Regions from separate parts of the Homo sapiens genome. Here regions 1 and 2 are each linked to region 3. Evidence: fine-mapped expression QTL. A gene starts in region 3. Each other region holds a variant in brackets. All regions are shown on one strand. Distances are between the middles of the regions. Region 1 overlaps RPN1 (ribophorin I). Region 2 overlaps CFAP92 (cilia and flagella associated protein 92 (putative)). Region 3 holds the start of RPN1 (ribophorin I).

Evidence for each region. PIP is the estimated chance that this variant, and not a neighbour inherited with it, causes the effect. A credible set is the group of variants that fine-mapping cannot tell apart.
Region 1: its variant is the best candidate, but not a certain one, in a credible set for the expression of RPN1 in whole blood (TOPMed, PIP 0.64).
Region 2: its variant is the best candidate, but not a certain one, in a credible set for the expression of RPN1 in whole blood (TOPMed, PIP 0.73).

Annotation. Positions count from the first base shown.
Region 1 is chr3:128,623,931-128,631,930 of GRCh38, reverse strand. It overlaps RPN1 (ribophorin I), which reads left to right. Exons shown (of 10, transcript NM_002950.4): 5 at 1,788-1,980; 6 at 5,099-5,198; 7 at 5,919-6,057; 8 at 6,278-6,397. Among named protein-coding and RNA genes, the nearest start is that of RPN1, 23 kb to the left of the region's middle. The variant C/G (reference allele first, on the strand shown) is at 4,553.
Region 2 is chr3:128,944,377-128,952,648 of GRCh38, reverse strand. CFAP92 (cilia and flagella associated protein 92 (putative)) reads left to right here. Exons shown (of 16, transcript NM_001394090.1): 10 at 6,674-7,578. Among named protein-coding and RNA genes, the nearest start is that of CFAP92, 46 kb to the left of the region's middle. The variant C/T (reference allele first, on the strand shown) is at 3,246.
Region 3 is chr3:128,647,328-128,655,584 of GRCh38, reverse strand. It overlaps RPN1 (ribophorin I), which reads left to right and starts at 4,767. Exons shown (of 10, transcript NM_002950.4): 1 at 4,767-5,045. The coding sequence starts at 4,785. RefSeq lists enhancers at 4,294-4,373, 4,534-4,803, 5,474-5,543 and a silencer at 5,054-5,323.

The sequences.
Region 1 (8,000 bases), 24 kb after region 3:
TGGACATTGTGAGAAATGAGGACTTTATCACAGCTACCTATTCTTTGCTTTTCGAAACTAGCTAAATATTTAGGCAGTTGTTTAGGGTTGACTGATGTTCATCTTGTTGATTGGCAGTGTTAGAAACCAACAGAATCTTAAAAAATACCCCCCCATATATATAGATAAGCCATTTTCTTTTTTTTCTTTGAGACAGAGTCTCACTCTGCCACCCAGGCTGGAGCATAGTGGCGTGATCTCTGCTCATTGCAGCCTCCGCCTCCTGGGTTCAAGTGATTCTTCTGCCTCAGACTCCTGAATAGCTGGGATTACACGCATGCACCACTACACCTGGCTAATTTTTGTATTTTTAGTAGAGACAGGATTTCACCATGTTGGCCAGGCTGGTCTTGAACTCCTGGCCTCAAGTGATCCACCTGCCTTGGCTTCTCTTTCTTTTTTTTTTTTTTCTTGAGACGGAGTTTTGCTCTTGTTGCCCAGGCTGGAGGGCAATGGCGCGATCTCGGCTCGCCACAACCTCCGCCTCCCAGGTTCAAGCAATTCTCCCGCCTCAGCCTCCCGAGTAGCTGGGATTACAGGCATGCACCACCAAGCCTGGCTAATTTTTTTTTGTATTTTTAGTAGAGACAGGGTTTCTCCATGTTGGACAGGCTGGTCTCGAACTCCTGACTTCAGGTGATCCGCCCACTTCGGCCTCCCAAAGTGCTGGGATTACAGGCATGAGCCACCGCGCCCGGCCGCCTTGGCCTCTCAAAGTGCTGGGATTACAGGCGTGAGCCACCATGCCCAGCCTAAACCATATATTTTTTTTTTTTTTGGAGACAGAGTCTCGCTCTATTGCCCAGGCTGGAGTGTAGTGGCACGATCTCGGCTCACGGCAAGCTCTGCCTCCCGGGTTCATGCTATTCTCCTGCCTCAGCCTCCCGAGTAGCTGGGACTACAGGCGCCCGCCACCATGCCCAGCTAATTTTTTGTGTTTTTAGTAGAGACGGGGTTTCACCATGTTAGCCAGGATGGTCTCGATCTTCTGACCTTGTGATCCGCCCGCCTCGGCCTCCCAAAGTGCTGGGATTACAGGCGTGAGCCACCGTGCCCGGCCTAAACCATATTTTTTAAGTGAAAATTTGAATAGAAAAAGGAAAAGCATATTCATAGTACTGCGCCACCCAAACACAGCTGTCATTTTGATCTATTTCTTTGTTCTTTTGTAGTGTTTTTAAAAAACATTTTATCATATTGCATATACAGTTTTTAAATCTTTTTTGTCCCATAAATGAAATCTTATAAACTTTTTTTTTTACTTATGTATGATAGAAGGGGTCAGTATGTGAACAAAGGTATTATACCTTCCTCCCATGATCAAAATACACTGACAGATTTGGAAGATACAATAAAGTATATCAGGTAGAAAAACCCTTTCTGTAACCCTACCACCTAGTAATTTGATGAAATTTCTTCCGTCTTCTATCTTTACTTTTCTTCTCTGCAAAATAACTTGCAAGATTATTTTTACCTTTGTATTAAGTCTTCAATGTTCACAAAGGTATTTGCATTTCCCTTAATTATTTACTGTTTAGAAGAATTTGGGTAGTTAGCACCCTTGATTGAGAAGTCGACGCAAACCTTTGTGGGGAAAGTTAGACTTTTTTAGGTTGTTTATGTTTGGGGACTATTTTAATTAAGTAGTACCATGTGAGGATCTTGGTGCAGGAAGTCTTCTGTGTTTAGGATCATTTCCTCTCAGCTGGTTCCTGGAGTTTTAGAAGGGCATATCCACTCTCTTGCAGACCATCCTTCCTGCTGCTGCCCAGGATGTTTATTACCGGGATGAGATTGGCAATGTTTCTACCAGCCACCTCCTTATTTTGGATGACTCTGTAGAGATGGAAATCCGGCCTCGCTTCCCTCTCTTTGGCGGGTGGAAGACCCATTACATCGTTGGCTACAACCTCCCAAGCTATGAGTACCTCTATAATTTGGGTCAGTCTTCAATAGTAAGGGAGAAACTAACCTTTTCTTTAATTTCGTGAATTTTTTTCTTTCAATTATCAGTCTTTATAGATGGGGTGTGTTCATTTGTCATTCTGAGGAAGGCTGGTTTTATCAGGAACAACTTTTTATAAGTGGGTACGAGTTAGTATTGTAAAAGTAATACATGCATTTGATAGTCAATCCGAACAGTATGTAAAAGTCTTCTTCTTACTTGCAGTTCTGTCATCAGATGGAACCGCTGAAATTCCTTTAAATAGTTTTTGAGTTATTTAAAAAATGAAAATTCAGAGAATAATAAAAAACACTTTTATATGAACACCCAGAACTAATGATTGAAAACATTTTGTCATATTTTCTTTCAAGTCTTTCTTTTTTTTGAGACGGAATCTCACTCTTGCCACCCAGGCTGGAGTGGAATGGTGCGATTTTGGCTCACTGCAACCTCCACCTCCTGGTTCAAGCGATTCTCCTGCCTCAGCCTCCTGAGTAGCTGGGATTATAGGTGCCCGCCACCACGCTCAGCTAATTTTTTGTATTTCTAGTAGAGATGGGGTTTCACCATGTTGGCCAGGTTGGTCTTGAACTCCTGACCTCAGGTGATCCACAGGCCTCGGCCTCCCAAAGTGCTAGGATTATAGGTGACAGCCACCATGCCCGGCCAAGTCTTTTTTTTAAACCTTTTTACTGAAAAATAAGATACAGAAAACCATACAAAAAATGTATAGCTCAGTGAATTATTATGAGGAAGACCTTGTGCCGCTCCCCACCCCCTCCTGTCAAGAAATCAAAATTTGCTAGCTACTCAAAAAGTGTTCCATGTACCTCTTCCTTCTCAAAGTCATTGCCCCGACTTTGAGTAATCACTTTCTTGAATATCTTTGTAGTTTTATCACCCAAGTGTATATCTCTACATACTATACCTTAGTTTTGCCCTTTTCAATCTATTCAATTTGCCTTATCTATTAATCTGCAGTTAATACCTACATCTGTTTTTCTTGGCTTGATCTTCACTCACTGCAACCTCTGCCTCCTAGGTTCAAGCGATTCTCTTGCCTCAGCCTCCCGAGTAGCTGAGACTACAGGCACCCGCCATCATGCCTGGTTATTTTTTGTATTTTTAGTAGAGATGGGGTTTAACTACGTTGGTCAGGCAGGTTTTGAACTCCTGACCTCAAGTGATCTGCTCGCCTTGGCCTCCTAAAGTGCTGGGATTATAGGTGTAAGCCACTGTGCCAGGCCTGTTTTTTCATTTAAAACTTTTCTGGGAGGCTGAGGTGGGAGGATTGCTTGCACTCAGGAGTTTGAGACCAGCCGGGGCAACATGGTGAAAACGGGTCTCTACAAAAAAATTTTTAAAAATGAAAAATTATCTGGCTCACACCTGTAGTCTCAGCTACTCGGGAGGCTGAGGCAGGAGTAACACTTGAGTCCAGGAAGTTGCCCTTTAGCCTGGGTGACAGAGCAAGACCCTGTCTCTAAAAAATAATTAAAGTTGCTTTTCTTTGCATTTATGTTAAAGCATTATTATTTGTTGTTATTCACTCTAATCCATCTTAATTAGCCTTAATTCCTAAAATGCCTCTTTTATTTCTAAATTTTTTTCCTGATTTCTATCATTTTTCTGAATTTTTCTTTTTTTTTTTTCTGTCTCACTTTGTTGCCCAGGCTGGAGTGCAGTGGAGCGATCTCAGTTCACTGTAACCTCCCAGGCTGGAGTGCATTGGCGCGATCTCAGCTCATTGCAACCTCCGCCTCCTGGGTTCAAGAGATTCTCCTGCCTCAGCTTCTGGAGTAGCTGGGACTACAGGCATGCACCACTACGCCCAGCTAATTTTTTATTTTTAGTAGAGATGGGGTTTCACTATGTTGGCCAGGCTGGTCTCGAACTCCTGACCTCAGGTGATCCACCCACCTCAGCCTTCCAAAGTGCTGGGATTACAGGAGTGAGCCACCGCGCCCGGCCTGAATTTTTCTAATTATTGTTTACATTGTTCTTGCATGACTTACATGATTTTATTAATACCTTTAGCTTGTTTTGGAATAGCAGGAGCAGTCTCCTGGTTCGTTTTTATGGGCGTCTTGCTGGCATGTTTTCATTTTCTTACAGGGGTGTTCTTGTTTTCATCCCATTTTTCTTATATAACTTAATCTTTTTTTTTTTTTTTTTTGAGATGGAGTCTTGCACTGTTTCCCAGGCTGGAGTACGGTGGCACAATCTCAGCTTACTGCAACCTCCACCTCCTGGGTTCCAGTGATTTTCTTACCTCAGCTTCCCAAGTTGCTGGGATTACAGGCATGTGCCACCACACCTGACTAATTTTTATAGTTTTAGTAGAGATGGGGTTTCACCATGTTGGCCAGGCTGGTCTTGAACTCCTGACCTCAGGTGATCTGCCTGCCTCTGCCTCCCAAAGTACTGGGATTACAGGCATGAGCCACTGTCTGTTGATCATTTTTAATGTGACCTTTCCGAAGGAGGGATGGTTTAGAGTGGCTTTTGTACCTTCCCAGATCTCTGCTATTTTAGTGCAAAAACATGTGGCTTGCTTTCTGAGCTTTC[C/G]TCTGTGCGGTTTTTGAGTTCCATTGTCCCTATCATGTTCATTTTTGATTGTGTTGAGCAGTTTCTCCTCACTGTAGGGCACTGTCCCAGAAGGGGAGTTCTGCTCTCAGGGACTAGACTGCTGCAGACTCGTAGACCTTCTGCAGGCCCGTTTCACTCACCATTAGGCAGGGCACAACTGCTCCGAGTTTCAGCCACTCCTCACACTGGCCTGCTGTGCTCTCTAGGGAATCCCGGTTGTGTGTTTTGGGGTTCTGCTGTTCTCAAGCCCATCAGTTGCCCTGTTTCTTCTCTCTGCGTTCTCCTTCACAGACACTGATAACGTGAAGGTCTTGTGGCTGTCGGTGTTTTGACCCCCATCCCTGTCTCTGTGTTGTGGGGTTCAGTAGAGATACTTTGTTGCCTGGTTTTGTTGTAAACATGGTCCGTGGGTTTTTGGTTTTGCTGTCTACTTGCTCTGTCTTTATGTGAGCCCCTGTACTTCTTTCTCTCCTGCCCATTTGATCCGTTTTCCACATCATTGCTTATGCTTGCTTGATCCTTCAGGTGACCAGTATGCACTGAAGATGAGGTTTGTGGACCATGTGTTTGATGAACAAGTGATAGATTCTCTGACTGTGAAGATCATCCTGCCTGAAGGAGCCAAGTGAGTGTGACTGTTCCTCTCCTTTGCACCCGATTTCTCTGGTTGTACCCTTGTGGTACCCTAAGGAGAGCCTATGTTCTAGGGGCACAGTCTTTGTGTCACTTTTCTCTAGATTTACTTTATCAGGGAACATCTACTTGGCCTCTCTTGAGTCACATGTCCACTCTGACTGCCAGAATGAGAGACCCCTTGATTTTCTTCCTGTGGAGAATGTTCCATAGTGGAAGAGTAGTTCCTCATGCAAATCCAGGCTGTGCTGTTTACCAGGAGAAGGGACAGTGGGCCTGGGCAGACAAAAGCAGGACATGTCCCCTGCCCCGTAAGAAGCTCTTATTCATGTGAAGAGAAAGAACATTCAGAACAGCTCGTGAGGCATCTGTTCAAGCCTCCCAGGGATTCACTGGGTAGGATGTACAGGAGAGCTGTGTCAACTTTGTGACTCCAAGGAGTGGGGCCAGTACTGGTGAGAACTTGGGAGTGGAGGATTCAGAGGGACAGTTGTTGCCCCAGCAGACAAGGGCTTTAAAACAAAGGGCTTTCTGGCACTGGCTCCCCTGTCTCAAGAGAGTGGGTGTTCTCCATAGCTGAGAAGGGAGCAGAGTGGAGGAGTGTGAATTTAGTGATCTTGAAAGGCTCCTTAGCCTTGGAATTCTCTGATCCTAAATCTGGTTTATTGATGTAGTTGGTTGGAGGCTATATTTTATTCCCATCTTCTTCCAGGAACATTGAAATTGATAGTCCCTATGAAATCAGCCGTGCCCCAGATGAGCTGCACTACACCTATCTGGACACATTTGGCCGCCCTGTGATTGTTGCCTACAAGAAAAATCTGGTAGAACAGCACATTCAGGACATTGTGGTGAGTGGCTCCACTGTTTGCCTTCCATGGCGTCTTCCCCAGACAGTGGGCTCTGGGGGCCAAGAACTCACCTTCTGTCCCTCCTTGGGCTGGAGTCATTTGAGCTCATGGCGTCTTCTGGTCTTGGGGTGGGGCAGCAGGTCGAGTGGGCCAGCCTGGGTGAGTCTAGGCTCCCATGTCCCTACAGCCCCGATGAAGCCTGTCCTCTTGCTTCTCCCAGGTCCACTACACGTTCAACAAGGTGCTCATGCTGCAGGAGCCCCTGCTGGTGGTGGCGGCCTTCTACATCCTGTTCTTCACCGTTATCATCTATGTTCGGCTGGACTTCTCCATCACCAAGGTACCGTCTCTGCCTTCTTCCTGCTTGTCATTTGTGTCCTTGGTAATATTTCACCAGCTTGAGCACTGATCCTCACAGTGAGCCCAGGGCAGGACGCCATGGCCAAAAGACCCCTGCCTGTGCTCATCCTTGCCGGAAGGGTACTTTGTTTTTGTTGCTTGTGGTCACTAGCACAGGAGGTTAAGTCCCTGCTTCTGTCTTGCTTTGGCTCTGGAGACAGAGTAACTTGGATGCTCAGTTGAGGTAGGAAAAACATGAAAAGATTGGTGCTTATTTAGCTGTTTTGCTTCTTGTTATTCAGTGGAACTTGGAGGTGGAAGTCCCCTCTTAGTCCCCTCTCCCTCCCCACCTCCCCCTTGGTGATTCCTTGTTGGGAGCAGAAACCACTGACCTGGCCCTGTCAGCACCGTTCTCCCCACTCCCACTCTCTGCTCCCTGACAGGCTCCGTGGCTCCTTGGTCCTCCCCAGGCTGCACTGCTGTTATCCTCAGGTCATCCTCTTGCTCTTTTCTTCCTTCCTTCCTCCATTTCTCATTCTCTCATTGTTCCTTAGGGCTCTTGGCTCCATGCCCCAGGGTAGGCACTAGTACCAGGCACTTATTGTAGTCAGGTGGGTGAGGCCTGGTGGAGGAGATGAGCACAGCTGGTGCTTGAGGACTGTGGAATGTGATGACAGGCACAGCGTGTGTTTTTTTTTTTGAGATGGAGTCTCGCTCTGTTGCCATGCTGGAGTGCAGTGGCGCGATCTCCATTCACTGCAACCTCTGCCTCCCGGGTTCGAGCGATTCTGCCTCAGCCTCCTGTGTAGCTGGGACCACAGGTGCGCACCAAGGGTGTGCTTCTAGTGGGGCAACTTGGGAGGCCCCAAGGCTACCCTGAGGAGGTGACAGGCAAAGAAGGTGGGGAAGGGCATTCAGTTGGAGGGGCTGATGTTTGTGAGACAGCAGGGAGGGGTTTTGGTAGGACCTGTGAGCAAAGATGTTGATCCAGCCGAACTGTGTGGGTCCACTTATATGCAGATTTTTTTCTTTTCGTTTTCTTTTTTTTTTTTCCTGAGACGGAGTCTTGCTCTGTTGCCCAGGCTGGAGTGCAGTGGTGCGCTCTCAGCTTGCTGCAACCTCCGCCTCCTGGGTTCGAGCAATTCTCCTGCCTTGGCCTCTCGAATAGCTGGGACTACAGGTACGTGCCACCACGCCCGGCTAATTTTTTGTATTTTTAGTAGAGACGGGGTTTCACCGTGTTAGGATGGTCTCAATCTCCTGACCTCGTGATCCACCCGCCTCGGCCTCCCAAAGTGCTGGGATTACAGGCATGAGACACCGTGCCTGGTCAGATTTTTATAATCAAATGCAGATAGGAAATACAGTACTCAATACAGTGTTTGAGGGAACTGAAACCAAATATGTGGAGGGCTGACTTTTTGTATACTTGGGTTTCACAGGGCTGACTACAGGACTTGAGTATGTGCAGATAGTCGGAGATGCGGGGGGGCGGGGGCTCGAGGAATAACTGTGTGTGTGTGTGTGTGCGTGTGTGTGTGTGTAATTATTTCTGCTGAATCATTGGAGGTTAAGTTGCAGACGTTGTGCCCCTTTACCCTTGA
Region 2 (8,272 bases), 300 kb before region 3:
CCACCACACCTTGTTTATTCTTTATATCTCCTGTTTCTTTGCTGAGCAACTAATTTTTTCATTTGTTTCAAGCATGTTCATTACTGCTTCAGATTCCTTTTCAGATAATTCCAAGATCTGTATCATCTCAGTGTTGGTGTCTGTTCATTGGTTTTTCCCATTCAAGTTGATTTTTCTGGTATGACAGGTGATTTTTTAAAAATTCTATCTTGGATATATTGAGTATTACATTATGAGACTGTATCTTATTTGAATCTTACGTTTAAGCTGGGTGCTGGAGAATCACTTGAGCCCAGGAGTTTAAGACCAGCCTGGGCAACACAGTGTGATCCCTTCTTAATTTTTATTTTAATTAGCTAGATGTGGTGGCATACACCTGTAGCCCAGCTATTCAAGAGGCCGGGGTGGGAGGATGGCTTGAACCCAGGAGGCTGAGGCTGCAGTGAGCTATGATTGCACCACTGCACTCCAGCCTGGATGACAGAGACCCTGTCTCTCAAAAAAAAAAAAAAGAAGAAGAAGAAGAAAAGAAAGAAAAAAATTGTATGTGTAGCAGGCCTTCTCCAACACCAAACTGCATGTGTAGCAGGCCTGTGGAGGGGGAGATGAGAGAGTTACCATCTCAATACTGCCAGGTGAGACTCCAGGTTCCCCACTTGGCCACTGTACCCTGTGGGTAGGGATATCTTGTTACTGCTCTTGTGGACTTCACTGATACATGATGGGAGGCTTCATTTCCATTGAGGGTTGGGGAAAGTCCTGGCTCCCCACCAGGTCTTTTCTGACACTACCCCAGTGAGGTAAGGAGCACCAAGTTAAAGTCAGTGAGGGTAGAAGTCCAGGCTTCCCATGTAGCCTTTGTTTCTGGGGTGGGGCATGATTTTTTCCATGGTGTGTGTCTGGGGTAGGGAGGTTATTTGCCTAAAAGTTTGCTGTTCTGCTGAGTTGTCCCTTTCTTCGTCTTTGATATGGAGAAAGCAGACTTTTCTTGGGGTCCTTTCTGCCTACTCTCACTGGTATTTCTGGATACTGCCTTCTCCAGCACTCAGTCCGGAATATATGAGGCAAATAGAAGACCCAGGATCCCATGTTCCCTAAACACCTTTTCTGTACTTTTCAAAGTCTTTGTATTTTTTTTTTATATATACAACCTGCAGAGTTTTAAAGCTGTACTTAGTAGAACTAGAAGTGTGTCTATTCCATCTTGATCCAGAACAGGAACTCTGTAAGTGTATTTTTACCCGTGAAGCTGGGGATTCAGTGGGCCATTTCAACCTAGAAGCCCACATCCTTCAGCACCGGGAAATTGTCTTAAATTATTTCACTGATTATTTCTTCATTTTTTTCCCCCTTTCTTTTTGGGACTCTGTTAGCTAGATGCTGACTCTCCTGGGCTTTCCTTTTTTTTTTTTCTGAGATGGAGTCTCGCTCTGTCACCCAGGCTGGAGTGCAGTGGCACGATCTCAGCTCACTGCAACCTCTGCCTCCCAGATTCAAGCAATTCTCCTGCCTCAGCTTCCTGAACAGCTGGAATTACAGGTGCCTGGCACCACACCCAGCTATCTTCTACTTGTTTTTATTGTTCTTTCTCTCCTAATTGATCCTTTTTCTAGGAAATGTTCAGAAAAGAGTGAACAGAGTGGGCCTGAGACTACCGTCCTTAAAAAGTCCTGTTTGCAGAGTTGACCCAGGCTGGTATATGGGAACTTGCATTTTGAGAGGGTTCCCCGCACTCCCCGTTAAGAATGGCTCACTGTGCCTAAATGGCTTTTGCAAACAGTATCGTTTGTGCTGAATGCCTGCTTTCCCTTTGGGAGGCTGAGATTTTCATACATGCTAGGCAGGGGGTGCTATGTGACCAGGCCTCAGCAAAAGCCCTAGGCAGTGAGTCCCTCATGGGCTTCCCCAGTGGACAGCATTTCACACGTTGCTGCACTGCATCAGGGAGGAGTTGAGCACCCCCTGTGTGTATCCCCTGGGAGAGGACTTCAGCAGCTTGTGCCTGCCCCCTTTGTTGTTTGCTTTGTCTCTTTTGCTGTAATAAATCACAGACACAAGTGCGCTGCACCCATGCTGAGTTCTGTGAGTTCTCCTAGCGAATCACTGAACTTGAGGGTGTCGGGGGCCTGGGACACAGCACTTCCAGCTTGCTTCATGGGCACTGTCGTCACGTGTGTAGTCCGCTTCCTTTAGGTTGATCTTCCTGTTTGTTTCACTCCACCTTCCAGGTCAGACGTTTTCCTCCACTGTCTGTTAATCCCCTGGCCCACTGCTCATGGCTGAGAGAGCACAGACCTAAAAGGCGAGCTTTGGGTGCACGGTGGGCTTCTCAGCTCTGAGCTTCACCATCGGGTGATCTGAGTGGGGCGTTGGTGGGAACCCCTGGGTTCTACAGGGCTTTCCTAGTTCCCTGCCTGGGGGGTCAGGGTCTAGCCTGCTGCATTCTGAATGCCCACAGACAGAAAGGAGCTGGGAATTTGCACTAAGCAGTGAGCATTTGGTCACCTAATCTCCCTATTTGGGAACGGCACAGATGCCCTCAACTATCCCCTATTCCAGAGACCCTCTGTTATTTTTTTTAAAAAACAAATTTTTCTACAGTAAAATTGATGTTTATCTTTTGGTTTATAGGTCTATAAATTTAAAATTATGTATAGATCAGGCCAGGTGCAGTGGCTAACACCTGTAATCCCAGCATTTTGGGAGGCTGAGGCAGGTGGATCATTTCAGGTCAGGAGTTTCAGACCAGCCTGGCCAACATGGGGGAAACCCTGTCTCTACTAAAAACACAAAAATCAGCTGAGCGTGGTGGCACGTGCCTGTGATCCCAGCTCCTCAGGAGGCTGAAGCAGGAGAATTGCTTGAGCCTGGGAGGCAGAGGTTGCCGTGAGCCAAGATCGCGCCATTGCACTCCAGCCTGGGCTATGAGAGAGAAACTCTGTCTCAGAAAAATAAAATAAAATCACGTATAGATCAATATTATCACCACTACAGTTAGGATACAGTTCTGTTACCCCAAACCCCTCCTTTGTACTCGCCCTTCATAATCACTTTTGCTTCACACACATAACCTCTGACAGCCACTGATGTGTTCTTTATGACTATAGTTTTAACTCTGGAAGAATGTCATGTAAATGGGGCTCTGTGTTTTGCAGCATCATGCAGCTGTAACCTTTGATTCAGCAGATAACAATGTGCATGGCCTCTCCACTCAAGGTAATGCCTTTCAGATTCATTCAAGTGGC[C/T]GCATCTATCGGTAGTTCTTTCCTTTTCATTGCTGAGCAGTATTCCATCACAAGGGTGTACCACAGTTTGTTCGTGCACTCATCAAAGGACATTTAGGTTGCTTCTAGTTTTTGGTAATTATGAATAGAGCTGCTTAAAAACAGTGTACACATGTTTTTATAGGAACATAAGTTTTCAGTTCTTTAGGGTAAATGCCAACAAATGAAATTGCTAGGCTATATGTTAAGTATATGCCTGACTATGAAAAACTGCCCACCATTTTCCAGTGCGGCTGATCACTCTGCATTCTCATCAGCAGTGAACAAGGGTTCTAGTTGCTCCCTACCCTCTCCAGAATGTGGTATTGTCAGTATTTTAAGTTTAGCCAGTCTAAGAAGTTTGTATTGTTATCATATCATGGTTTTAATTTGTAGTTCCCTGACGGATAATGATGTTGAGCATCTTTTGATGTGTTTATTTGCCATTTTACATCCCATTTGGTGAAATTTCTGCTCAAATTTTTGCTCATTTTTCAGTTGGGTTGTTTACTGTCTTACTGCTGAGTTTTGGGAGTTTTAAAAAATATATATTCTAGGCTGGGCACGGTGGCTCACGCCTGTAATCCCAACACTTTGGGAGGCTAAGGCGGGCGGATCACTTGAGGTCAGGAGTTCAAGACCAGCCTGGCCAACATGGTGAAACCCCATCTCTTCTAAAAACACAAAAATTAGCCAGGCCTGGTGGCGCGTGCCTGTAATCCCAGCTACTCAGGAGGCTGAGGCAGGAGAATTGCTTGAACTGGGGAGGTGGTGGTTGCAGTGAGCTGAGATTGAGCCACTGTACTCTAGCCTGGGCAATGGAGCGAGAGCCTGTCTCAGGGAAAAAAAAAAAAAAATTCCGGGATGGGCACGGTGGCTCACGCCTGTTATCCTGGCAATTTGGGAGGCTGAGGCAGGAGGATCACTTGAGCTCAGGAGTTCAAGACCAGCCTGGGCAACATGGTAAAACTCTGTCTCTACAAAAAAAAAAAAAAAAAAAAAAAAAAAGGAAAGAAAAGAAAAATTAGTGGGGCATGGTAGCACACACCTGTAGTCCCAGCTACTAGGGAAGCTGAGGTGGGAGGATCAGCTGAGCCCAGGGAGGTTGGGGCTGCAGTGAGCCATGATTGCACTACTGCACTCCAGCCCGGGGCAACAGAGCAAGACCCTGTCTCACCATAAATATATATATATAATAAATGTGTGTTTACATACACATTCTGGATTTAAGTCTGTTGTTGGATATATTATTTGCTAATATTTTCTCCCAGTCTGTAGTTTGTCTTGTCATTCTCTTTTATTTTTAACCCAATCTGTGACAAGCACATCTTTTCATTCTCTTTACAGTGTCTTTTGCAGAGCAAAAATTTTAATTTTGATGAAGTCCAAATTATACATTTTTTTTCATGTATGCATTGTGTTTCTGTGTCACATCTAAGAACTCTTTGCCTAACCCCTGGTCAGAAGGATTTTTTTTTTCTGTTTTCTTCTCAATGCTTTAATAGTTTTATAGTTAACATTTATATCTTCGATCAATTTTTTTCTTTTTTGAGACAGAATCTCATTTGTTGTCCAGGTTGGTGTGCAGTGGTGCAGTTGTAGCTCGTTGAAACCTCAAACCTCCTGGCCTCAAGCAGTCCTCCTGCGTCAGCCTCCCAAAGTGCTGGGATTAAAGGTGTGAGCCACCACACCCAGCCTTTGATCAATTTTGAATGAATTTTTGTATATGGTGTGAGGTTTACGTTGAAGTTTCTTTCTTTTGCACTTTTGATAAACATAGATTAGCCATACTTGTGTGGATCTGTTTCCGGTTTCTCTTTTCTGATCCGTGGGTCTGTGTCTGTCCTTTCAGCAACACGACACTGTCTTGCTTATAGTAGCTTTGTAGTAAGTCGTAAAAATGGGTGAAGTGGTTCCTCCAACTTTAGTTTTCAACATTGTTTTAGCTCTTCCAGTTTCCTGGCTCTTCTATACAAATTTTAGAATCAGTTTATCAATATCTACAAAAAGTTGTGCTGGGATTTTGATTGGAATTGCATTACATTTGTAAACCTATAAACTGATTGGTTTGAGGAGAGTTGACATCTTTGCTATATTGTCTTCCAATCTATGTATATAGTACATCTCTCCATTTATTTACATCTTTTTTTTTTTTCATCAGTGCTTTGAAGTTTTCAGGACCCCCTATTTACATTTTGCATGGAGAGCAAACTAGTAGACTTCTGCCGAGCCACTGGGGGGACACCTAGGGATCTGATTGCTTCTTAAGGAACTTGCACCCAGTCCTCCCTGCTCCAGCCGTTCCTTTTTACTGCCAGTTCCAGAGATACTAGGTTTGCCATTCCCAAGTCTTTTGAGAGTTTTACAGAGAAAATCTGGTTGGTTCTCAGCTTCTCCATTGTGTGGTTGGTATTTGGCTTTCTCAACTGTGCCAAGCCAGTTACAAATAAATAGAAATACAATAGGTTTTACCTTGATTATATTCTTTCTTTTCTTAAACTTATATCCTTATTTTATATCTCTGATCATTCTAATATCTTATGCCTTGGTGCATCTGATTTCACTAGTAGTGCCTTTGTCTTTACGTGTTCTGTGATTTTTACCATGATCTCGTGTTCAATGGAACTTTCTTGATGGGAATTCTTTGAGGCCTAGGTTGAAAGTGACTATCTCCAGAGGTATTGTGTCTCTGCCCACTGCTCTGGGAGCACCGCCAATCCGGGATTATTTTAGAATAAATTCTCAGCTTCCGTGTAAAATAAATAGTGCCTTTAGATTACGAATTCAGACCACAGACTTGTGTAAGGCTTAATTTGTGATGATAAAATCTCAGCACCAAGGTCAAACCATGCAAATGTCCCTGCTTTCTGCCTCAGCATAGCTTGGCTCTTCCTTTCCACCCTGTTCTCCGTGCTCTCTGAGGCCCAGACCTCTCTGAGGCTGTCTCCTGCCCAGAGTGTCAGTTTTCAGCTTGGCACCTGTGGCTCTGCTAAAGGGGTCTGTGTCGACCCCCAGATATATATTTGGAAAACAGAGATTTCCTTTCTAAAAATCACTTCTCTGTACCTTTTCTGTGCCCAGCCTCGGGATAGGAACTAGAAGTACAGGTATGAAAAAGGACACATGGCCTATCTTCATGGCACTCACATTTTGGGAGGAAAATAAGTAACGAATGCTTTTTGAGTCCTTGTTTCATGCCAGTCGCCATCCTGGTGCGTTCACATGCATGATGTCTGCAGTCCTAGTAATGACCTTGCACAGTAGTGTCTCTTATGGATATTTTGTGGATGAGAAAACTTGGGCTACAGGGACAGGCAATGAGCCTGGCACTGGGATTTGAGCTCCTCATGCTGGGGCTGAGTGACTGTCCTTGTGGCTGGGTGACCTGCTGTGGCCCTGCTCTCTCGTAGAGGCTGTGCATGCCTGTGTACTGCAAGTACCAGTTCCATAAGACTCCAGTTCACAAGACCAAGGGGGAGCCCCATGGAACCCACGTTTATTTCCAGGACATCAACGTCATCTTCCTTGGGGCACTGCACCCCAGTGACCTAAGGGAATACCTGGAGGGCCCCCCCATGGTGGTGGAAGTTCACGACCGGGACCGCAAGTCAGAGGAGTGTTCTCAGAAGCCCGTGCTGTTTGGGGAGGACCCTCTGGATTCATACCTCAACTTCCAGGCCCTCATCTCTCCCAGAGAGACAGAGAACAACCCCTTTGAGTCCCAGAACAAGATGTGGTACCCTTATGGCATCGCCCAGGTCAGTTTTGCTGACCTCCTCCTTGGCCACAAGTACTTGAATCTGGCCGTCCCCATCCACAGCTGTGAGGTTCAGCCCACACACTGCGGCCAGGACAGCAGGAGAAGGAAGGTTGTGGGGCTTGGGGTCCCCAGAGATGGCCACCAGCACGGCCCAATGCCCAGGGGCAACTACCTAGAGGCTGACTCCCAGCTCAAGTTGCGAGTGGACATCGCGGTGCCACTGAGGGCCGGGGCCAGAGCTGCTGATCCTGACCTTGGGGGCTCCCAGTTTGGCCGCATCATCTTCGTCTTTGACTTTAAGAAGGTCTCCCTGCTCCACAGCCTGCTGCAGGACATCACCATGATCAACGCTAAGGCCCTCGGCCTGGACTCCTACCCTGTCAGGACCCTGCAGCAGATCCTGTCAGCCTTCAAGGTGCGTGTGCGGGTCCAGGAGCAGCAGCACCTGGATGTGCTCACTGGCTTCCACCTGCTGGACGGGAAGACACACCTTTTCATCCTGGAAGGCCTGGCCGACCAAGGCTTGAGGCAGCTGTGGGAGAACCACCAAAGCTGGTAGGTGGTTTGTTTTACATTTTACATAAAAATGATGGCATCTGGATGCCGAGGGAGTGGAGAGGTCTTTCAGAGCCAAGCCTAGGTTTAGCATCCTTGTCTGTGAGTCTCCTTTCGGGGTTCATTGTGAGGTACTTACCAGGGTTTAGTCATTGGACTTGAAGACTCGATTGGCTTTGGTTCCAGGGAGGAATTCGGGAGTATCTAAGATGACTGAGGGGTCCAGGAGAGTGGGGCCTGTCTTCAGGGTTCTGAGCCAAGGGCTACTGTGGCTAAACAGGAGCAGAATATTCTGTATTAGATTTCACCTTGCCCCAGGGAAGATCATTTTGAAGATGGAGGGGCTGCTTAGGCTGCAGGAAATTGCCCTTCCCTGAAGGCCTTCAGGGTACCTGGGGGCCACTCAGTGGGAACACTAGAAGTGAATAATTAAAGTGTCCAATTCTGGGCTGCAGCGGGTAGCCCTTTGCAGTTCCTCCATTTTTTAGTTTTGGTGACATGACACCTCTCCCTTCCTTTCACAATTTGCAAGTATACTAGTTTGGGTAGATCGGATCTCCGTCCTTTAGTCTGGAGGGCCCCCATCTGTCCTCAGAGTTCAGATGCCCCAGGACCCACTTGGATGCAGTGGGGAGTCCCGGAGTTGAGGCTGTCTGCCCAGAAGGGGATTGCACCTCTGGGAGACCTGCCTTCC
Region 3 (8,257 bases):
TTAATATTTGAAGAGTCGGTTATTTTGTAGAATTTTCTTCAATTTTGGTTTGTCTGATTTTATCTATTTTTTTTATTATTACTATTTTTTTGAGATGGAGTCTTGCTCTGTCACCCAGGCTGGAGTGCAGTGGCATGATCTTGGCTCACTGCAACTTCTGTCTCCTGGGTTCAAATGATTCTCCGGCCTCAACCTCCCAGGTAGCTGGAATTACAGGTGTGTGCCACCATACCTGGCTAATTTTTTGTATTTTTAGTAGACACGGGGTTTCACCATGTTGGCCTGGCTGGTCTTGAACTCCTGACCTCAGGTGATCTGCCTGCCACAGCCTCCCAAAGTTTTGGGATTACAGGCGTGAGCCATGGCGTCCGGCCTTCTTTTTTCTTTTTTTTTTTTTTTTGAGACAAAGTCTCACTTTGTCATCCAGGGTGGAGTGCAGTGTCATGATCACAGCTCACTGCAGCTACAACCTCCCAGGCCCAAGTGATCCTCCCACTTCAGCCTCTTGAGTAGCTGGGACTACAGGGGCATGCCACCACACTAGGCTAATTTAAAATATTTTTTGTAAAGATAGAATGTTGCTATGTTGTCCAGACTGGTCTCAAACTCCTTGGGGTCAAGCAATCCTCCTGCCTTGGCCTTCCAAAGTGCTGTGATTACAAGCATGAGCCACCATGCCCAGCCTTGTTTTGTTTTTTGAGACAGGGTCTTGCTGTCACCCAGGCTGAAGCGGCATGAACATAGCTTACTGAAGCCTTGATCTCCGGGGCTCCAGTGATCCTCCTGCTTCAGCCTCTCAAGTAGCGGAGACTACAGGTGTCAGAGGCATGTGAACGACAACAACTCCATCCTGAATAGGAACTGGGTAAAACGAGGTTGAAACCTGTGAGCTGCATTCCCATACAGTTAAGGCATTTTAAGTCACAGCGTGTTGGGAATTGGTGGGTTCTTGGTCTCACTGACTTCAAGAATGAAACCGCAGACCCTTGCGGTGAGTGTTACAGTTCTTAAAGGTGGCGTGTCTGGAGTTTGCTCCTTCTGATGTTTGGATGTGTTCGGAGTTTCTTCCTTCTGGTGGGGTTCGTGGTCTCGCTGGCTCGGGAGTGAAGCGGAGGACCTTCGCGGTGAGTGTTAACAGCTCTTAAGGAGGCGCGTCTGGAGTTGTTCGTTCCTCCCGGTAGGTTTGTGGTCTCGCTGGCTTCAGGAGTGAAGCTGCAGACCTTCGTGGTGTGTGTTACAGCTCATAAAGGCAGCGTGGACCCAAAGAGTGAACAGCAGCAAGATTTATTGCCAAGAGCGAAAGAACAAACTCTCCAGTGTGGAAGGAGACCCCAGCGGGTTGCCACTGCTGGCTCTGGCAGCCTGCCTTTATTTTCTTATCTGGCCCTACCCACATCCTGCTGATTGGTTCATTTTACAGAGAGGGGAGAGGTCTGTTTTGACAGTGTGCTGATTGGTGTCTTTATAATCCCTGAGCTAGACACAAAGGTTCTCCACGTCCCCACTAGATTAGCTAGATACAGAGTGTCCACACAAAGGTTCTCCAAGTCCCCACCAGAGTAGTTAGATACAGAGTGTCAACTGGTGCATTCACAAACCCTGAGCTAGACACAGGGTGCTGATTGGTGTGTTTACAAACCTTGAGCTAGATACAGACTGCCGATTGGTGTATTTACAATCCCTTAGCTAGACATAAAGATTCTCCAAGTCCCCAACAGTCTCAGGAGCCCAGCTGGCTTCACCCAGTGAATCCTGCACCCGGGCGGCAGGGGGAGCTGCCTGCCAGTCCCCGGCCGTGCGCCCGCACTCCTCAGCCCTTGCGTGGTCGATGGGACTGGGCGCCTTGGAGCAGGGGGCGGCGCTCGTCGGGGAGGCTGGGGCCGCACAGCAGCCCACGGAGGAGGGGGAGGCTCAGGCATGGCGGGCTGCAGGTCCCGAGCCCTGCCCTGCGGGGAGGCAGCTAAGGCCCGGCGAGAAATCGAGTGCAGCGCCCGTGGGCCGGCACTGCTGGGGGACCCAGCACACCCTCCGCAGCCGCTGGCCGGGGTGCTAAGCCCCTCATTGCCCAGGGCTGGCAGGGCCGGCCGGCCGGCCGCTCCGAGTGCGGGGCCCGCCAAGCCCAGGCCCACCCAGAACTCCAGCTGGCCCGCAAGCGCCGTGCGCAGCCTCGGTTCCCGCTCGCGCCTCTCCCTCCACACCTCCCTGCAAGCTGAAGGAGCCGGCTCCGGCCTTGGCCAGCCCAGAAGGGGGCTCCCACAGTGCAGCGGTGGGCTGAAGGGCTCCTCAAGCGCGGCCAGAGTGGGCGCCAAGGCCGAGGAGGCGCCGAGAGCGAGGGAGGGCGCACGCTGTCACCTCTCAACAGGATGAGATAGAAGGTCGGCACAAAATACTGGTCATAAAGACCTTACTGATAAAACAGGTTGCGGTAAAGGAGCCGGCCAAAACCCACCAAAACCAAAATGGCAATGAGTCCTCACTACTACACTCCCACCAGCGCCATGACAGTTTGCAAATGCCATGGCAACATCAGGAAGTTATCCTATATGGTCTAAAAAGGGGAGGCATGAATAATCCACCCCTTGTATAGCATATCATCAAGAAATAACCATAAAGATGGGCAACCAGCAGTCCTCGGGCTGCTCTGTCAATGGAGTAGCCATTCTTTTATTCTTTTACTTTCTTAATAAACTTGCTGGCTGGGGGCGGTGGCTCATGCCTGTAATCCCAGCACTTTGGGAGGCTGAGGCAGGTGGGTCACGAGGTCAGGAGTGCAAGACCAGCCTGGCCAAGATGTTGAAACCCCGTCTCTACTAAAAATACAAAAATTAGCCGGGCGTGGTGGCGGGCGCCTGTAATCGCAGCTACTTGGGAGGCTAAGGCAGAGAATTGCTTGAACCCGGGAGGCACAGGTTGCTGTGAGCCAAGACTGCGCCACTGCAATCCAGCCTGGGCAACAGAGCGAGACTCCATCTCAAATAAATAAATAAATAAAATAAAAAATAATAAACTTGCTTTCACTTTGCACTGCGGACTCATCCTGAATTCTTTCTTGCGTGAGATCCAGGAACCCTCTCTTGGGGTCAGGATCCAGACCCCTTTCCTGTAACACAGGCACTTGTCACCAGGCCCGGCTGATTTTTGATTTTTTGTAGAGATGGGGTTTTACCCTGTTGCCCGGTCTAGTTTTGAACTCCTTGGCTCAAGGGATCCTCCCTACTTGGCCTCCCAAAGTGCTGGGATTGGTGGCATGAGCCACTGTGCCTGGCCTTGTCTGATATTTATGACTAGATTGAGGTAATGGATTTTCAATAATTTTGTGGCAATACCACAGAAGTGATGTGCCTTTCTCAATGGATCCTATTAGTAGATACCTAATGTTACTATATTTTATATGTGGTGATGTTAACTTTGATCACTTGTTTAAAGTGGTGCCTGCCAGGATTCTCCACTGTAAACTATTTTTTCCTTTGTAATTACTAAACATTTTATTTTTATTTTTTAATTTCCTTTTGAGAGGGAGTCTCGCCCAGTCGCCCAGGCTGGAGTGCAGTGGCACGATCTTGGCTCACTGCATCTCCTGCCTCCCGGGTTCAAATGATTCTGGTACCTCAGCCTCTGGAGTAGCTGGGATTACAGGCACGCACCACCACACCCGGCTAATTTTATTTTATTTATTTATTTATTTATTTTGAGAAGGAGTCTCACCCTGTCGCCTAGGCTGGAGTGCAATGGCGCGATCTTAGCTCACTGCAACCTCCGCCTCCCAGGTTCAAGCGATTCTCCTGCCTCAGCCACCCCAAGTAGCTGGAATTACAGGCGCCTGCCACCACGCCCGGCTAATTTTTTGTATCTTTAGTATAGACGGGGTTTCACCATGTTGGCCAGGCTGGTCTCGAACTCCTGACCTCAGGTGATCCACCCGCCTCGGCCTCCTAAAGCGCTGGAATTACAGGCGTGAGTCACCGTGCCCGGCCTAATTACTAAACATTTTAGTAGAGATGTTTTGAAACTTTGCATATATCCTGTTTCGGCTTCAAGTTCTGCCTACTAATTTTAGCATTCATCCGTGGATGTTGGGGAAGGCCAACTTTTACTTTCTCAATCTGAGCAAAATTTCACTGTTTTAAGGAGCAAAACGAGCAGAATTATTGGACAGGAAGAATGGTAGGAGAGAGTAGAGACCTAGGCAAGGGCCGCTCCTGTAAAAATTAGGTAAGTGAAAACTAGTAATAATAAGTACACTCGCGGCTGGGCGCAGTGGCTCACGCTTGTAATCCAGCACTTCGGGAGGCCGAGGTGGGCGGATCACGAGGTCAGGAGATGGAGGCCACAGTGAAACCCCATCTCTACTAAAAATATAAAAAAAAATTAGCCGGGCGTGGTGGCGGGCGCCTGTAGTCCCAGCCACCCGGGAGGCTGAGGCAGGAGAATGGTGTGAACCCGGGAGGCGGAGCTTGCAGTGAGCTGAGATCGTGCCACTGCACTCCAGCCTGGGCGACAGAGCGAGACTCCGTCTCAAAAAAAAAAAAAAAAAAAAAAAAAAAAAAAAAAAAAAGTAAGTACACTCGCACTACGAACAGAAGGATATCCCGAGCAGCTCTGAGAGGGCTTTAGCAATCAGGCGCCGGGTCGGCTTCCCGGTTGCCCCGGAGACAGGGTCCTTCCTTGTTCGGCGCCGCCATCTTGTGTCACCAGCCCTTGCCCAATGAACGGCTGCTCAGTGGCGGGAGGGCGGGCTACCGCGCCCGGGCCCTACCCGCCCTGGCGCACTGCTCTTCCCGGTCATGGAGGCGCCAGCCGCCGGCTTGTTTCTGCTCCTGTTGCTTGGGACTTGGGCCCCGGCGCCGGGCAGCGCCTCCTCCGAGGCACCGCCGCTGATCAATGAGGACGTGAAGCGCACAGTGGACCTAAGCAGCCACCTGGCTAAGGTGACGGCCGAGGTGGTCCTGGCGCACCTGGGCGGCGGCTCCACGTCCCGAGCTACCTCTTTCCTGCTGGCTTTGGAGCCTGAGCTCGAGGCCCGGCTGGCGCACCTGGGCGTGCAGGTGAGTGTGGGCGACCCCTCGCCGCCGCTCCCGGGACCCTTCCCGCCTCCCTTCCTGGCGGTCCCCCGACTCCGCCCGCGCCCCTCTAGGCCTCAGGAAATGCGGAGACCCGGGCGGCGGGCGGGGCACAGGGGGTCCGTGGGATTGCCTCGGGGCCCGCGAGGAGTCCTGGGTGGCCAGGGGCCCCGGCGCCTCCGCTGCCCCCGGTGCGCGCCCGCCCTCCTGCCTGGGCCACGTCAGCACCGGCCTGCCCCCGCGCGGGTCGCTGCTCACGTGGGCAGCTGCTGGGATCCGCGGCCGACCAGCCTCGGAGCTTGCCCCTGTTTGGGCCGTTCTCGGCACCGCTCGGGAGACCTCGGGCCGGTAGAACGCACCTCCCTTCCGTAAGGCGAGCGCGGCAGCCCCTCGGCCCGGTGCCAGCGGGCGCCAGACTTCATTTCTCACGGCCCGACGAGGTGGCTCAAGTAGAGGACAAATAAATGAATTAAAGTGAATTTCATTCTCTTAATTCAGTATCTGGTCCGTTGTAGGTGCTTCTTTCTAGACATAGAGAACCATCAGAAATGTAACAGGTTTCGCATTTTTAAGTTGGTAATCACTTGAAATCCCTATGAATGTGATGCATTTTAAGGTTCCTAGTGAACGCTTTCTAAATGTTAAAACTCTTTTTAAAGTTAGTTTTAAAACTCCTGCACGTAATATAAGTTCTCTTATGCTGTACAGAAAAGGAAAGTCCAATTTTCTCCCTTCCCCCTGCTGCTTCTCATTCTTACACCTCGGCAATAAATGGCTGTGTTTGGCTTAAATGTTTCCAGGTATTTCAGTGATCACCAAAGAAAATGTTGGGTTTGGGAGTAAAGGGAATGTACATACACAGAGGTTTGGTTTTTATTACTATTGTTGTTAAACAATTTCATTAAATGATTACCTAATTATTTGTTGAGAGAATAGTCATTATAGTGTCACATTTCTTCTAAGCACACTTCGTTCTCTGACTGAATATGGAGCTATAAAGATGGGTTTATAGAGATTACGTTTCTGAAATGACTCCTATTTTCTTTCATGCGTTGTCCATGATGAAATAAAGTTTTACTCAAAGGCTTGTGGAAAGATAGATCAAAACTTCATGTAAATTTGCCTTGCCATCTTTGAATGTCTTGAATGTTAAATCCCGTTCTTTATAGAAGCCAGTTGTGATTTAATGAGCTTGTTACAGTATAAGTGGACCACAGCAGGAGCTCGGCTATCCTGCCATCATGCCTGCGAGCTAGGTTAATGTACTTATTTTATCTTGTTTTTATTTTTTCTCCCAACTTTATTGAGGTATAATTGGTATACAAAAAACTGCCTATTATTAGTATATTCAAAATACGTATACACTGGTGTAACCATTACCACAATCCGGGTAATAAACATATCTGTCACCTCCAGAAGTTTCCTTTTGTCCTTTAGTTTGTTTGTTTCTGTGGTAAGATACTTTCTTACTGGGACTCTACTGTGTGTCAGATATTATGGTGGGTATTTTAAATATATTCTCATTTAGCCCTCATAGCAACCATTTAAGGTATAAATCCTCATATAGCAGGCAAGGAGGCTGTAGTCTGTCAGGTTAAGTTATTTAGCCCCTTACATGCGGTCTTACAGTGCAGAGTAAGTCAGGGCTCCAGCTTATTCCGTAAGTTGTGTGTTCTCACACTGTATAATGTTGCCTCTTCTGGCTTTTATGGCTGTGAGATAGGATTGTATTGGGTATAAGACTTGCAGTCACATTAACAGATTTATTTAAAATCATTTTCAATTTTGTAGTCCAAGACACCAGTTAAATGGATATATGTGCTATTTTGTACTCCTATCCCAGTGGGAAACAACTGGATGATAAACTTAACAAGGAGATGTATATTTTCCAACAGTTGTGTTGGAAACTGATGAGGTTGCTGAAATGTTTTTCAGTGGGTTCTTTTCTTTTTCTTTTTTTTTTTGAGACGGAGTTTCACTCTCGTTGCCCATGCTGGAGTGCAATGGCGCTATCTTGGCTCACTGCAACCTCTGCCTCCTGGGTTCAAGCAATTCTCCTGTCTCTCCTCTGGAGTAACTGGGATTACAGGTGCATGCCACCACGCCTGGCTAATTTTTGTATTTTTTTTTTGATGCAGAGTCTTGCTCTGTCGCCAGGCTGGAGTGCGGTGGTGCAATCTCGGCTCACTGCAACCTCTGCCTCCCAGGTTCAAGTGATTCTCCTGCCTCAGCCTCCGGAGTAGCTGGGACTACAGGCGCGTGCTGCCACGCCCAGCTAATTGTTGTATTTTTTTTGTAGAGACAGGGTTTCACGCATGTTGGCCAGGATGGTCTTGATCTCTTGACCTCATGATCCGCCCACCTCGGCCTCCCAAAGTGCTGAGATTACAGGTGTGAGCCACTGCGCCCGGCCAATTTTTGTATTTTTAGTAGAGACAGGGTTTCATCATATTGGTCAGGCTGCTCTCGAACTCCTGACCTCAGGTGATCTACCTGCCTCGGCCTCCCAAAGTGCTGGGATTGCAGGCGTGAGCCACCATTCCTGGCCTTCAGTGGGTTATTTTCAAACCCTTGTAGAATTTTAGGAGCTAGCAGAAGGGACCATGGTGGTTACTGACTAGGAGCCAGTGGTTGCTTCTCTTTTTACCACCAAGGACCCATCTAATGATTTTTCCTCTCTTTTGGATCCTGTATCTGAAATATTTTGGCATGCTAATATTTTATTAAGTAACAATATTTTTCAATAAAACAAATAAGTCTGTATAACTGAACACAATGAGAGTTCCTGATACACACACATATACTAGAATGTTCCTTTTTTTTTTTTTTTTCTTGAGGCAAGTTCTCAATCTGTTCCCCAGGGTAGAGCACAGTGGCCCAGTCAGAGCTCACTGCAGCCTCGAATTTCTGGGCTCAAGCTATCCTCCCACCTAGCCCCCTGAGTAGCTAGGACTACATGTGCGCACCACTACGCCTGGCTAATTAAGAGCAATTTTTTGTTTTTTCAGAGATGGGGTCTTGCTGTGTTGCCCAGGCTGGTCTTCAACACCTAGCCTCAAGCAGTCCTCCCAAAGTGTTGGGATTACAGGTGTGAGCCACTGCACTTGGCCTGGCTGGAATATTCCCACTGTGATAAGATTCTAGTCAAAGTAATGAAACTTGTTTGTATTAGACTGTACAGCTTTATTGAGGATGAT